2 separate regions of the Homo sapiens genome follow, and region 2 is linked to region 1. A link means that fine-mapping ties the variant in region 1 to the expression of a gene that starts in the linked region. Tissue or cell type: esophagus muscle. Region 1 holds a variant in brackets; the other region holds the start of a gene. All regions are shown on one strand. Distances are between the middles of the regions.

Evidence for each region. PIP is the estimated chance that this variant, and not a neighbour inherited with it, causes the effect.
Region 2: it holds the start of RUFY3, and the variant in region 1 is fine-mapped to the expression of RUFY3 in esophagus muscle (GTEx, PIP 0.94).

The regions. Positions count from the first base shown.
Region 1 is chr4:70,756,290-70,763,584 of GRCh38, reverse strand. It overlaps RUFY3 (RUN and FYVE domain containing 3), which reads right to left. Exons shown (of 18, transcript NM_001037442.4): 2 at 893-1,066; 3 at 1-33. Among named protein-coding and RNA genes, the nearest start is that of RUFY3, 38 kb to the right of the region's middle. The variant G/C (reference allele first, on the strand shown) is at 3,368.
Region 2 is chr4:70,718,565-70,725,859 of GRCh38, reverse strand. RUFY3 (RUN and FYVE domain containing 3) reads right to left here and starts at 3,896. Exons shown (of 18, transcript NM_001037442.4): 1 at 3,109-3,896. The coding sequence starts at 3,286.

The DNA.
Region 1 (7,295 bases):
AGGATTTATTTTGTCCGAGAAAAGTTTTTTTAGCTAAGGCAACAAAAATAAAGCAGTATTTTAATATTCTTTACAACATAAGCGCACTCTCAATACACACACACATACACACACAACTTTTCAGGAAACCAATCCTAGGTTATAAGATGGTTTTGGATTCATTCATGCTTTTAGAATAGATAATATTTTGTGAAAATAAAAAAATTCTCTACTTCCCAAGACTCAGCCCTTCTTCTTTCACAAACAGTTTGTGGCCTAGCCCTATAATATAATAAAACATTTTAACAATTTAGTGCCTAAAATTGTGTGGTATTAATGAAGAAAACAGCTCAATAGAAAAGAATATGTAATCCAGAAATAGGCTATGGAATATTGGGAAGTTGGTAAGCATAGGCATACAGATTTAAAAAAAACAATCAAACAAAAAACAACAAGAAAAGAATATTGAGAAGGCAAGAAGAAAGGAAACAAGGGTGAACAAGACCAGTTACTGCCCTCAAAAGCTTATAGTTAAGTGGAAAGAACACTGACCCAAGAGTCGGGAGACCTGAGTTCTAGCACCTACTCTGCCACAACTCAATGTGTGACCTTGACCAAGTCATGTCTCATTCTGGGCAGGCCTATTTCCACCTGTCAAACAGAACTACTGTACTGTACTTGATTACTTATAATGGCCCCTCCAACTGTAACATTTAATGATCTGTATTTTTAAAGCCCTATAAGTCCATTGAGTCAACCATAACCCTGCTCCTATAAAAGACTGCATTCCAATGGATTAATATTATTAATTCAAGCCTCTTATTCTTTGGCTCCACAAAGAATGCTTTCTTCTATAGTATGCATTGCTAGAAAACAGCTGCATGCATATTTGCATTTTGGGGTGATGGCCTACCTTTCAAGCCATGTTTCAGACAGTGCTCCATCACCACAAAGAATTGCTGGAGAGGTGCATAGTCAGAGTCAAGAGTCCTCCCCAGGTTCAGAGCTGATTCAATCAAGCCCTTGATACTCAGCTTGGCCATGTTCATGAGGTTCATGCGTTCATTAGCCATGAGATAATTAGGATCTGCAGCCAAAGGGGAAGAAGATGAAGGCTGGTTACTAGAAATAGCACATTTTAAAATTCAGTATTAGTTGTATTCTTCTCCACCATGTACTCACTGTGAAAAAAAATGCCAGTTTCCTTTAAGAATATCCTCAATGAAGCAGTAAAATGAACTATTTTATCAAATCTCAAGCCTTGAGTAGTCTTTTCTTTCTTTTTTTCTTTGAGACAGGGTCTTGCTCTGTTGCCCAAACTGGAATGCAGTGGCATGATCATAGCTCACTGTAGCCTCAACCTTCTGGGCTCAAGTAACCCTTCTGTCTCTGCCTCCCAAGTAGCTGGAACTATAGGCGCACGCCATCACACTGGCTAATTTTTGTATTTTCTGTAGAGACATGGTCTCACTTTGTTGCCCAGGCTGGTCTTGAGCTCTTGAGCTGAAGCGATATTCCCACTTCGACCTCCCAGAGTGTTGGGATAATACGCGTGAGCCACCATGCCTGGCTGAGTAGTCTTTTAATAGTCTCACCACCACCTCTGCTATCACCCTAACCTAAGCATCTGTCATAACTCCCTACTGTACTACCTTCACACTGCTCTCTCTGCTTCCATTCTTGCCTACCCCTCTTTTCTCTGCATAATTTGTGAAGTGCTCTAAAAATAAAGCCCCAATGTAGGAAAAAAAGGGTAAAGGGCTTAAACAAACTTTGCATTATGGTATTTTATTATTCTTTAAACTATGCACTAGCATTATTAGTATAATGCAGTACTAGAACTTAATCAACTCCCACATTTTTAAGTCTTAGCATACAGTGTATGGCTCTCATCAACCAGATGGATAAACTATTTGGGGAAAGGGGCTAAGTGACACATTTTATTGTACTCATTACCTTCATTTATTGGTGCTTACACTGTGCCAGCACTGTGGGCTACCTCTTACAATTATGATCTCCATCTCTCCTTACAACATGCTGTGAGACAGTCACCAATACAACAATTTTACAGGGAAGGAAAATGAGACTTAGAGAGTAAAGCTTCAGCTGCTCTGCCCTGACTCACTGTATGACCTCGGGCAAGTCACCATCCCATTTTAGGTCAATCAAATAGTTGCAGCCGGCCCATGGGCACAGACAATAATAAATGACAGAGCCAGAGGCCAGACTCCTCCTGACCATTCTTTTACATGATTATTTTACCTACTTATTCTCTCATCATATTTAGGTATTCTCCCTTCTTTCCGGTGCTAAAGCAGGCCCATAATAGCTAGGTGGTCCAAGGTGTAACAGTTTATAAGTGGCAGAATCTGGACCTGGATCTGACGTGAAAGCTAATGCTCTCTTTACCTTATGCCATGTATATCCTCCCAAACACCAAATATACCAAATTTGTACTGAAAACTAAAGAAGGCCTAGAGCTCTATGATGTATTCCATTTCTTCTTAGGAAGACTAAAAATACTAATAAGGCTATGCTTCCATAATACAAATAAGCCACTTAGCAAAAAACAGACTGTTTAATGCAAATTATCCCAAGCAATTTTCTTCATACAAGGTTTTTATTTATATCTGCTTTCAAAGTTAAATGAGCAGAGTCAAATGGTCAAATTCCAAATTAATCTTCTCATTAAGTTTAAGGACTTACGGATTTGCAATTCCAACTATATAAATCTTGGTTTGTTGTTATGTTGTCTGAGGTTACTTTTGGAGAAACACTTTATGTGAGAGTCAGAATTGGTATATATCACCATTAATTCTTTCTTGCATAACAACAAATGTTTTAGGGCCATAGTTTAAATGTGGCCATAGCTTAAATGTAGATCAACTTGTCAAGGGTAGTATTCTCACAAGAGGACAGCAAAATACATGGAAAACTATGCCCTGAAAGACAGCCATGAAGAAAACTATCAGATATTAATTTCCATTTATTACCAGCATGTATGTACATTCTAGTGTTTCTGACCTCCTATAATTACTCAAAAAAAAAAAATAGAGCTGGGGTGTGGGTATGAATATGTGTAGAGGGCTACTAGCCTTCCCACCTGACACCTCCCAATAGATGGCAGGAGACTATGGTTGGTACTAGATAACTGCCTGCCCATAACTTTGAGGCATTCACTCTGCCTCAAGCCTGTAGACCATTAATTCAGGAACTTATAACAAGATTAAACAATGCTGCTAGTCAAAGTTTACAAGCTGATTCCAACGTAGTGAGAACTAGTCATGTGGTGAGAGATAGACTTGGGTTAAGTAAAAAATATCATATTGAGACATTTTTCCAGAAGTAGTGATAGATTTATACCAACCCATCTACATTTTCTCATCTT[G/C]TTCTTCTTATAATCTGCAGCAGAAATGTTTAAGACATCTGGCTGAGGTCTGGAGTGCATGAACTACAGACAGGTTAACTAGCGTCTATGGGAATTAAATTTCTGATATCATGGACTCCATTAGTAAGGTGCTACAATCTATTTAAACTAACTTCCATCAAACATAAACAACCTACCCATTCTTTAAAAAACACTACTCTCAACCTTGGCACTGTTGACATTTTAAGCTAGATAATTCATTTTTATGGGGCTCTGTTCTGAAAACTAATTTTCACAGCAACCCAGTAGTGGGTAACACTAGATGTCAGTAGCACTGACAACTGTTTTTGGTGGGTTAAGACAACCAAAAATGTCTCCAGACACTGCCAAATATTCTTTGGGAGATTAAATCAGGTCCTTCCACATTGAGAACTACTAATCTAAACAAATGAAAGTGAAACAAAAATCTGTTATAGTAATTTGATTGTTAGAGATAAGAGCTTAAAAGTAACAATTCACTCAGAATGGCTATTACTAACAAGACAAAAAATAAAAAATGCTGGTGTGGATGCAGAAAAAAGGGAATTCTTATACACTGTTGGTGGGAATGTCAATTAGTATAGCCTTTATGGAAAACTGTACGGAGGTTCCTCAAAAAACTAAAAGTAGAACTACCATATGATTCAGCAATCCCACTACCAGATATTTATCCAAAGGAAAGGAAATCGATATAACAAAGAGATAGCTGCATTCCCATGTTTAATTCAGCACTATTCACAATAACCAAGATATGAAATCAACCTAAGTGTCATCAACATGAATAAAGAAATGTGGTATACACACACACACACACACACACACACACATACACACACACACACAAATTCAGCCATAAAAAGAATGAAATCCTATGATTCATGGCAACATGGATGAGCCTAAAGGACATTATGTTAAGTGAAATAAGTCTGGGACAGAAAGATAAATACCACATGTTCTCACTCATATGTGGAAGCTAAAAAAGTTGAGCTCATAGAAGTAGAGAGTAGAATTGTGATTATTAGAAAATGAAAAGAGTATGGAGGAGGGGAAGATAGGGAGAGGTTGGTTAACAGATGCAAAGCTACAACTAGATAAGATGAGTAAGTTCTAGTGTTCTGTAGCATTGTATGGTGACTATAGTCAATAATTTTCTTTTTTTTTTTTGAGACAGAGTCTTGCTGTCGCCCAGGCTGGAGTGCAGTGGCACGATCTCGGCTCACTGCAAGCTCCGCCTCCCGGGTTCATGTCATTCTCCTGCCTCGGCCTCCCGAGTAGCTGGGACTACAGGCACCCACACCACGCTGGGCTAATTTTTTGTATTTTTAGTAGAGATGGGGTTCCACTGTGTTAACCAGGATGGTCTTGATCTCCTGACCTCGTGATCTACCTGCCTCGGCCTCCCACAAGTGCTGGGATTACAGGTGTGAGCCACCACGCCTGGCAATAATTTTTTTTTTTTTATATTTTCAAATAGCTAGAAGAGAGGATTTTGAATATTCCCAAAATTAATAAATAAGTGTTTGAGGCAAGAGATATGCTAATTACCCTGATTTGATCATTACATTGTATACATGAGCCAAAATGTCAGTCTGTATCCCTAAATATGTATAATTATTACACATCAAAAATTTTAAAAAGAATATATTGCTCATTGTAAATGAACACAAAAGCTAAAATGAGTATTATTTAATTCTTATTATTAACATTTTTGTGCTGAATAGTATACAAAAGTATGGCTATTTAGTCTTGCTATGTTGCTCAAACTGGTCTTGAACTCCTGGCCTCAAGCCATCCTCCCATGTTGGCCTCCCGAAGTGCTGGGATTAAAGGTATAAGCCACTACACCTGGCCTACAAATAATGTTGGCTGCTAATAATGAATATTAAATCATTAACCTGATTTGTCACAGAATATTTTCTATTCAACATTACTTGTCTTAAATACTATTCAAGTGTAAAATGATTTTGCAAAACTAACCTATCCTGTTAAAAAGGGCTGCAATGACCTGACAGAGTATGGAGGGGCTTCTGAGGGCAGGTGAATTTCTGTTTGTTGGTATGGGTGTTTATTATGCAAGCATGTTGTGTGTGTAACATTGTACTGAGCTGAATACTTATAATATAGGATTCTTTTCTGTGTATTTTGTACTTTTAACTATATAAAGTAAAAAAAGATTCTGTTATATTGTATAAGCCAGAAAGCCATTTTAAAACATGCATGACTTTCATGATATCATCAGTCAAGCTTTTCCTATGAGAAAAATGATTTAAAATTTTAAAATGTTCACAACACTGGCATTTAACACTATCATTCCAATAGAGAACTTTCATGCAATTATTTTTTTCAATACATATTGAACATCTACTATGTGTTAGATATTGTTTTAATGCTAGAAATACAGAGGTAATAATAGACTTAGTCCCTGCCATCAAAGTGCTTACTATTTATCGCAGTTGGTTAATACAAACTTATAGAGAACAAATAGGGCAGTGTACAGCAAACACCTGAAATTTCAGGATAAACATAATCATATTTAACAAAGATCAATTTTATTCCAGGACAAATATTTTATTTTATTTTAATTTTTTAATTTTTCAGATGGAGTTTCACTCTTGTTGCCCAGGCTGGAGTGCAATGGCGCGATCTTGGCTCACTGCAACCTCGTCTTCCTGGGTTCAAGTGATTTTCCTGTCTCAGCCTCCCAAGTATCTGGGATTACAGGCATGTGCCACCACGTGCGGCTAGTTTTGTATTTTTAGTAGAGACAGGGTCTCACCATATTGGTCAGGCTGGTCTCAAACTCCTGACCTCAGGTGATCCACCTGCCTCGGCCTCCCAAAGTGCTGGGATTACAGGCATGAACCACCGCGCCCGGCCCAGAACAAATAATTTTAAATGTTCCATTTGTTTTGTTTTGATTTTTGAGGCAGGATCTTGCTCTATCACCCAGGCTGGAGTGCAGTGGCACGATCACAACTCACTGTAGTCCCAATCTCCCAGGCTCAAGTGATTCTCCCATCTCAGCCTCCTGAGTACCTGGGATAATAAACAGGTGTGTGCAACCATGCCCGGCTAATTTTTTTTTTATTTTTTGTAGAGACAGGGTCTCCCTATGTTGCCCAGCTGGTCCCAAACTCCTAAGATCAAGTGATCCTCTCACCTCAGCCTCCCAAAGTAATGAGATTACAGGCATGGGTCGCCATGCCCAGCTAATTAAAAAAATTTTTTTTTTGTTAAATGACATAAACCTATTCTATGGAAATGTTAGTTTTCTACATTTCTTAAAACTAAGATAATTGATGTCATTAATTTAGGGTTTCAGGCAGGCTGTAAGCATAATACAATTTCCTCTGACATTGGGTGCACTTCTGTGGAGAAGACTGAGAAGTACTGCAACTACACTGCAGTAAGAACTCCAACAATGGTATATACAGGATACCAGGGGAATATGCATAGGAGAAAGGTATCTGACCTGGCTCCCTATTTTTCCTTCAATTTTAGGGGCCCCGTGTGTTTCTATAAATCCTCAGAGGATGAGACTTTTGAGTTCAATCTTAAAGGATAAAAAGAAAGGAGTCACGTAAGGAAGGGGTAGCAGTAGAGATGTGAAGGGAACAGGATGGAAGGAATAGCTTAGGTAAAGGTACAGAAGTATGGAAGAACATAACATACACAGAAGAAAAACAACACTGAAAAAATGCCAGGGGTTTAAGTATTAGAGATGAGACAAGAGAAAGAGACAAGGGCAGACTGCTAAGGACCTTGTTTAAGGAGTACAGATTTCACCTTAAAGTCAGTGAAGACTTTAACGTGGGATGTGATGTCACAAATTTGAATTTTAGAGAAGCCATTCTTGCATCCTTTTGGAAGATGATTGGAAGGGTGCATGAACTCAAAGCTGAGGGGCAAG
Region 2 (7,295 bases), 38 kb after region 1:
TGCTCCTGTTGCTATTCCCTGGCTGGGCCAGCTCACTGTGTACTGTTTGAAATGCCCTCCCTATGTCGGTCTGGTGATCACCTGTTTATCTCTTAAGGTCTCACTTAATGAAGCCTCTCCTGACCCTTCTCCTGTGGAGTCAATCACAGGCTCTTGCCTTTAGGGGAAATCTATTTGCAATTAAACTTGTTGTAGATTTGCTGTTGGCTTTTGAAAATAAGAGTATATAAGCCGGGCATGGTGGCTCACACCTGTAATCCCAGCACTTTGGGAGGTCAAGGAGGGTGTATCACCTGAGGTTGGGAGTTCGAGACCAGCCTGATCAACATGCAAAAACCCCGTCTCTACTAAAAATACAAAAATTAGCTGGGTGTGGTGGCGCATGCCTGTAATCCCAGCTATTTGGGAGGCTGAGGCAGGAGAATCGCTTGAACCCGGTAGGCAGAGTTTTCAGTGAGCCAAGATTGCGCCATTGCACTCCAGCCTGGGCAATAAGAACAAAACTCTGTCTCAAAAAAAAAAAAAAGAGTATATAAGACAAAAGAGAGATAATCCCTCATTGACCACCAATAAGCATTGAGATAATGAAGTGAATGCTTTTATTTTCATTTATTTAAGGGTTAAAGTAGGCAGAAACTCTAGGTCCAGGCCTATACTGCGGACTGCTCAGTGAAGGGCCAGGAACTCTGGTTTTAAGAAAATAAAATATGGAAGCCACAGAGCCTCTATTGCTGAGTACACACAGTCAGTCTACATCATTTTAAGAGGGAACATTATGCTGTTTGCCTATTTTCTTTTGTGGGAGTGAGGAGACTTCACTCTAGGATTTGGGTGGTCAGATGTTTTTCCCTCTGTGAATCAGCCCGGAAAGCAGTCTGAATACTCCCGCGTCCAGACATCAGGAGTTCCATTTTGTGAACAAGGTGAGATTCACATAATCATGGGCCTGGTGACCACCACTTAAATGCTTATAGCTAAATTAAATCTAATAACTATCAGTGGTATTAACATAAAAGTGGGTATTTCTTGGGACCAAATGACTGTTTAAATATCCAGAGTTTGGTAATGGAGCAAGGCAGTAATACTCACAGGCTTTCATGGGACTATGCTTTCTTTATTTTCATTTCTAGTAATTTAAAATAATAGCTTTCTTGCCCAATTTAAGGCAAAATTCTAAAATGCACTGTCGGCATTTCTCTATTTTCTTCCAAATCCTCTATAGTTGATTACAGGTCTTGGAAACTCTGTATTTATCTGATTTCTTTAATCAGCAGACATACAATTTATTACTTAGATTATAGCTCTCACACATTTTCCATACTGAGAAATGTGTTGCTACAGATTTCTCTATGAAGAATTCAAATGGCGCTGCTAAAAACGCTTACATGAACCAAACAGCTCACTTTTGCTTATCCATAGGAATCCTGCTCCAAAAACATATATTTGAGGTGTTAAAATTGTTAAAAATTATTTTTGAGACACTGGTAAACTAGATTTCATGATAAAGGGAATATTTCATATTGTATAACTCTCAAATTGGACGGGAATACATTTTTTTCAAACAAAATATGTAAACTGAGGCAGTTGCCAGAAGACTTCTTGGTAGCCTTCTAAAACTGTATTTTTCTTCCCTAAAGACTTTTAAAGCTTTGGAGGCTGTTTTAAGTAGTACTGGAATTGTTGGATGTAACGATGTTTTGATGAAAATATAGAATAAAATAATAATAAAAAATAAATAGTACTGGCATTGCATGGAATTTCAGCTGATGTCTTATAACTTGTGCACATAACGAAACATACAGCCAAAGAAAGCTGTCTAATTAACAAACCAATTGTTAAAAGATGCAAAGGGTCTTAAAAACCACTTAAACATTGTTCTTAAAGACACACCCAAAATGACTGCTTTGTGTTCTGTGTTATTAACCATCCCTAAAACTTTCTCAAGGCTAAGGCTGACTGGGAAGATAAAATGCTTATCAAACACAATGGGAAAATTCTGAGTCATGATAAGATTTCAACTCAAGGTCAAAGGCAGAGAATCACCTTTCCTAACCCCATCTGCTAGGTACAATTCACCTATGGTCTTCTTTGTCCTGTCGATGTGCCTAACTATCAGGCAGATGTTTATAAAGAATTTCTCCTCATATGCAAGCGTTTTTTGTTTTTTTTCATCAGTATAAGGACAGAGAATAAACCTTAGCTAAGAAGCAACTGTATTAAAAACAAAACGATTTGTAGCTATGATTCAAATCAGCTCTCTTTCTGTGGTATTAAGAGAATTAAAGGGTAGAAGCAGAAAACCTCTCATAAATTAGCAAGAGTCCTGGAAAAAAGTCGCAAGTCAAGAGACCACAAAGATCTCAGAGGTACTGACAGTGGAAATCTCAAATGGATCATAATAGTTACCACAAATAATTTATAAAAAGCAATGGCCAATAGATTCCAATATTACCATTCTATTGTAATCTATAGGGATGCCATATTAATCATATTTAACCTTTCCAGGCATTATGCTTTCTTAGGAGTCCATATTCAATAAATAAATGCTGAAAAGTTATTTTCTCATCTAACCTAATAATCCATATTGTTAAAAAAATGTTTTATCAAACATTTCCTAGATGTCATAACTTGCTTAAAATTGTATCCTCATATAATGGTGAGGATACCATTACCAAATACCCTGGTGTTTCTACTGTATTCATCATGTACAATCCTATAATTATAGTCATGTTGTCTTAACTTAGTGTTATAAATCACTACAATTTCTATAACATTTTCATATATGAACAAAATTAATAGCTTTCTCATTATTGAATAGAATCAGATGTGATAAGTGACCTCAAATGTTTTATTTAGAGGCTTAAAGACAAAGAACTCTAAACGAGTATCCAGCATCTTTTGAAAGGATACCTAAAGGGGCAAGAAAAAAAATTATCTTTCCCCCATGAGCAAGAGAAGGGGAGCTGGGTGGTAAGTAAGGATGCAAGGTTTTCAGGACTGTTAACAGTTGAGAGTGTAGGTTCTTTCTACCTCTCCCTGATCCTCCCAGCCCTCCCCCATAACAATGAGGATGCTGGTGAAATACTAGCGGACAGGATCTGACCATACCTTCATGGGTAGGCTCTGGGTCAGGTGTAAGTGAGATGTCATCCAGCTCTCGCAGGCAGAGCCATTCTCCATCCATGGACACTCGGAATTTGCAAAGGTAGATGGTCTCCATGGCAGCCTGTGTGATCTTGTCAGTGGTGGGGGTTGGCATATCGGTCGGAGGCGTCAGAGCAGACATGATGACTCAGCTGGGACCACAACACACACACAGACACACACACACTCACACACACACACCAAAAAAATAAATACAACCTCCTCACCAAAAAAACCCAATACAAAGCTCTGAAACAAAGCTTTCAGGAAAAGGGTGGGGGAGGTTTAAAAAAAAAAAAAAGGAAAAATACCTTATAGGTTAAGAACAAACTGCTCAAGATAAACAATTCTACACTATCTTATAGACAGTTCCTACCACATAGCAAAATAAGATGATGCTTGTCTTCTCCCAGCTTCCTCTCCTTTTATCTTCCCTTCCCTGCCCCCCACCTTTTTTTTCAGCTGAGCTATAGGCTTTAAATCCCGCACAGCTGATGCTGCCTTAGCTGGCTTTAAAAATCTGGCCTCGATATGAGTAAGTGAAAAATCCTCCTCCTTTGTGCAGAAAAAAAATATAAAAGAAAAACCTGAACAAAAAATAAACCTATATTTTCAATGTAGCTTAAAAAAAAAATCCTGAGCTGCAGAAATCACTTCCAGGATCTGCTCAGATGAGCTGGGATGCTGAGTTCTCATAGGATTGGCCGTGCGCAGTAAGCAGGGTGTTGACCAAAATGGCTGACTAATGAACTGAACTGAAAATTCAGGCTCATGTGACCAGCTGCTCTGAACGTAGGGCAAGCAATTCCCAGGATGCTTTATAGATGCTGCTGATGCTGGGAGAGCAATTAGGCTTCTCTCTCTCATCCTGTACAACCCACTTCCAGACTGTGCTAGTCAAACTGTGATCAGACATAACACAATGCACATATCCTCATCAATTCTTCTTACTTTGGGATCAAGGACTGAATAAAAGGATGACAATTAATACCGGATAATAATCTATAGTAAAGATGGTAAAAGAGGCAGTTAGATTAATTTAACAAGCATATAATTCACCTCTTTCATTCTTATCTACATAGCTATTAAAATTCTTTACTATGCTAAATGTTATGTTTTAAGAAAAGCTAAAGCATAAAAAATTGAGGTTCTCAGAGGGAAAAAAAACAAAAAGATAAAAAGAAAAGCTAAAGTAGATTTTCAATTTAAATATCTTATTCTTGGGCATTTATAATTTCCTTCTCCAAGGTACAAAAACCTGACCTTTTAGGTTAGGCAGAAATGCAAAAAAAAAACTTCAAGTTAAAAAAGTAAAATCTTTCCCAATTAATGGCAATTTCCCCCCTTTTTGATTTTGTTGTATTTATCAAGTTTCTGTATTAAGCATAAAATACGTTTCTTTTTTTTTCTTTTTTCTTTTTTGAGACAGAGTCTTGCTCTGTAGCCCAGGCTGGAGTGCAGTGGCGTGATCTCAGCTCCCAGGTCCAAGCAATTCTCTGCCTCAGCCTCCCGAGTAGCTGGGATTACAGGCACCCACCACCACGCCCAGCTAATTTTTGTATTTTTAGTAGAGACGGGGTTTCACCATCTTGGCCAGGCTGGTCTTGAACTTCTGACCTCATGATCCTCCCACCTCAGCCTCCCAAAGTGCTGGGATTACAGGCGTGAGCCACCATGCCCAGCCTTAAGCATGAAATATGTTTCTAAGCAGATTAAACCATGTTATATTTTTAAAATCCTCCCATTCGATAAGATACTGAAGACAATTATATTTTCTTAATACACACACACACACACACACACACACACACACACACACACACACACGGCCCTATATTATCCAATGAGGCATTTATACCTTGGTAGCAAAAGGGCAGGTACTTGCTTTATGAACTACATAAATTACAAAGAGAAGAATAAGAATTTTCTTTGAAAATGTTTTGGACAATTGAAAGAAAGTGTTTGTTTGTTTTTGTATTGAAGGGTTCCAATTTTAAGGAGGAACATACAAATTCAAGAAATATGACCTGAGACTATTCCTTTCTAGGGATTGTTATCAGAGGGACATCTTGATTTACCTAATTTCTGAAAACTAAAAAAATTCTCCTTGAATATTGTTAAAATCTCAAATGCTTCATCATAATTTGAGACTGAACTGAAAGAAAAAAATGCTAATAATCAAATTCTGTAGAGAAACTGGCATTTTCATATTGTTACGAAGACAGGGCGGATGGCTGGGCGCGGTGGCTCATGCCTATAATACCAGCACTTTGGGAGGCCAAGGCGGGCAAATCACCTGAGGTCAGGAGTTCGAGACCAGCCTGGCCAACATGGTGAAACCTCATCTCTACTAAAAATACAAAAATTAGTCAGATGTGGTGGCATGTGCCTGTAATCCCAGCACTTTGGGAGGCTGAGGCAGGTGAATGGCTTGAGCTCAGGAGTTTGAAACCAGCCTGGGCAACATGGCAAAACTCCATCTCTACAAAAACAAAAATTAGCAAGGTATGGTTGCGCGCACATGTGGTCCTAGCTACTTGGGAGACTGAGGTGGAAGAATCACGTGAGGCCAGGAGGCAGAGGCTGCAGTGAGCCGAGATCATACCACTGCACTCTACCCTGTCTCAAAATAAAAAAAAGAAGGAGGGTATACTGGTACAATGTAAGAAGGCATATATATAGGCTTATTTATAATTGGGGAAAATCAGTAAGTTACTAAGGAAAGCAAAATACTCCTGGTTTTATTTCTATCTCATTCTCTCTCATCATTACCCTACATCTAGACTCAGAGCCATTCATTCATTCATTCATTCAACAGATATTCACTAAGAGGTGCTCCACATGCCAGGTAGTGATCCAGGCACTAGGCACGCAGCAGTAAGACAGAAACACCTTTTCCAGGAAACAGAATTTTCATATCCAAATACTGAACACAAGCCTTCATTTAACACATTCTCATTTAATTCAGTTCAATTCCTTTCTAGCCAAAAATATTCCCATATTATATATTAATAAGGGGACAGTTTATAGATTCACTTTATATCATGCAATACTTCAAAACATAGTAAGTAGTCATTAAAACCTTCAAATTACATGGGACATTCCTGGAACCACAACTCCAAACAGCCCTAGCTATCTGTATGTGTGATATCAAAACTCTAGATCACTGATATGTTCTTAAAACAGAACAAGGAATACATGAATAAATCCGAATGCCATGTGATTGTCTGGGGTCCAAAACCTGAATTTGGCCTTGTCACAAACCACAACAATCTCTTCACCCCAGTAAGCATTTACTAACTTGAACAGATCTAGATTGATTGCAACATACCAACACAACAGGAACATCAAGGTTAGTGAGCAAGAAACTTGATTAACATTCCTTCGGAAGATCCATCCCACCCTGCCTCTCTCCAGGTAGAGGACACAGAGAGGCAAGCCCAAAACAACTAAAGTTTTTGGCAAGGAAAGAAAAACATGCCTGTATTGGTATCCTTGAATTTCCCAGATCTACCAGTTTGAGGTGTTGGCAGCCATTTCAGAAATAAGACCCGGGGGTGGGCAAGAAAAACTGTACTTCTACGCTGTTCTTTAGGTAAACACCATTGAGTCTTCAGCACGAACAGTTATCCATTGTTCACAGGCAAAGAAGTTACTATGAAAACAGTGCTATTTGTAGAAACTTATAAAAACAATTCTACGGCCGGGCACGGTGGCTCATGCCTGTCATCCCAGTACTGTGGGAGGCTGAGGCAGGCGGGTCACCTGAAGTCGGGAGTTCAAGACCAGCCTGACCAACATGGAGAAACGCCATCTTTACTAAAAATACAAAATTAGCTGGGCGTGGTGGCACATGCCTGTAATCTGCTACTCTGGAGGCTGAGGCAGGAGAATCGCTTGAACCTGGGAGGCGGGGGTTGCAGTGAGGTGAGATTGCACCACTGCACTCCAGCCTGTGAAACTCCGTCTCAAAGAAAAAAAAAAAAGATTTTAGATATTGCTTAGTACCGTTTTTACATTTTGGTCTTTACTAAGTAAACATCTTAGCTTTGAATATGAAGTTAAAGTTAAGCCATCAGTAAGATATTCAAACCTTGATTTTTTTTCTCACATACAGAGTAATTACTGTATGAGCTGTATTGAACTATTTT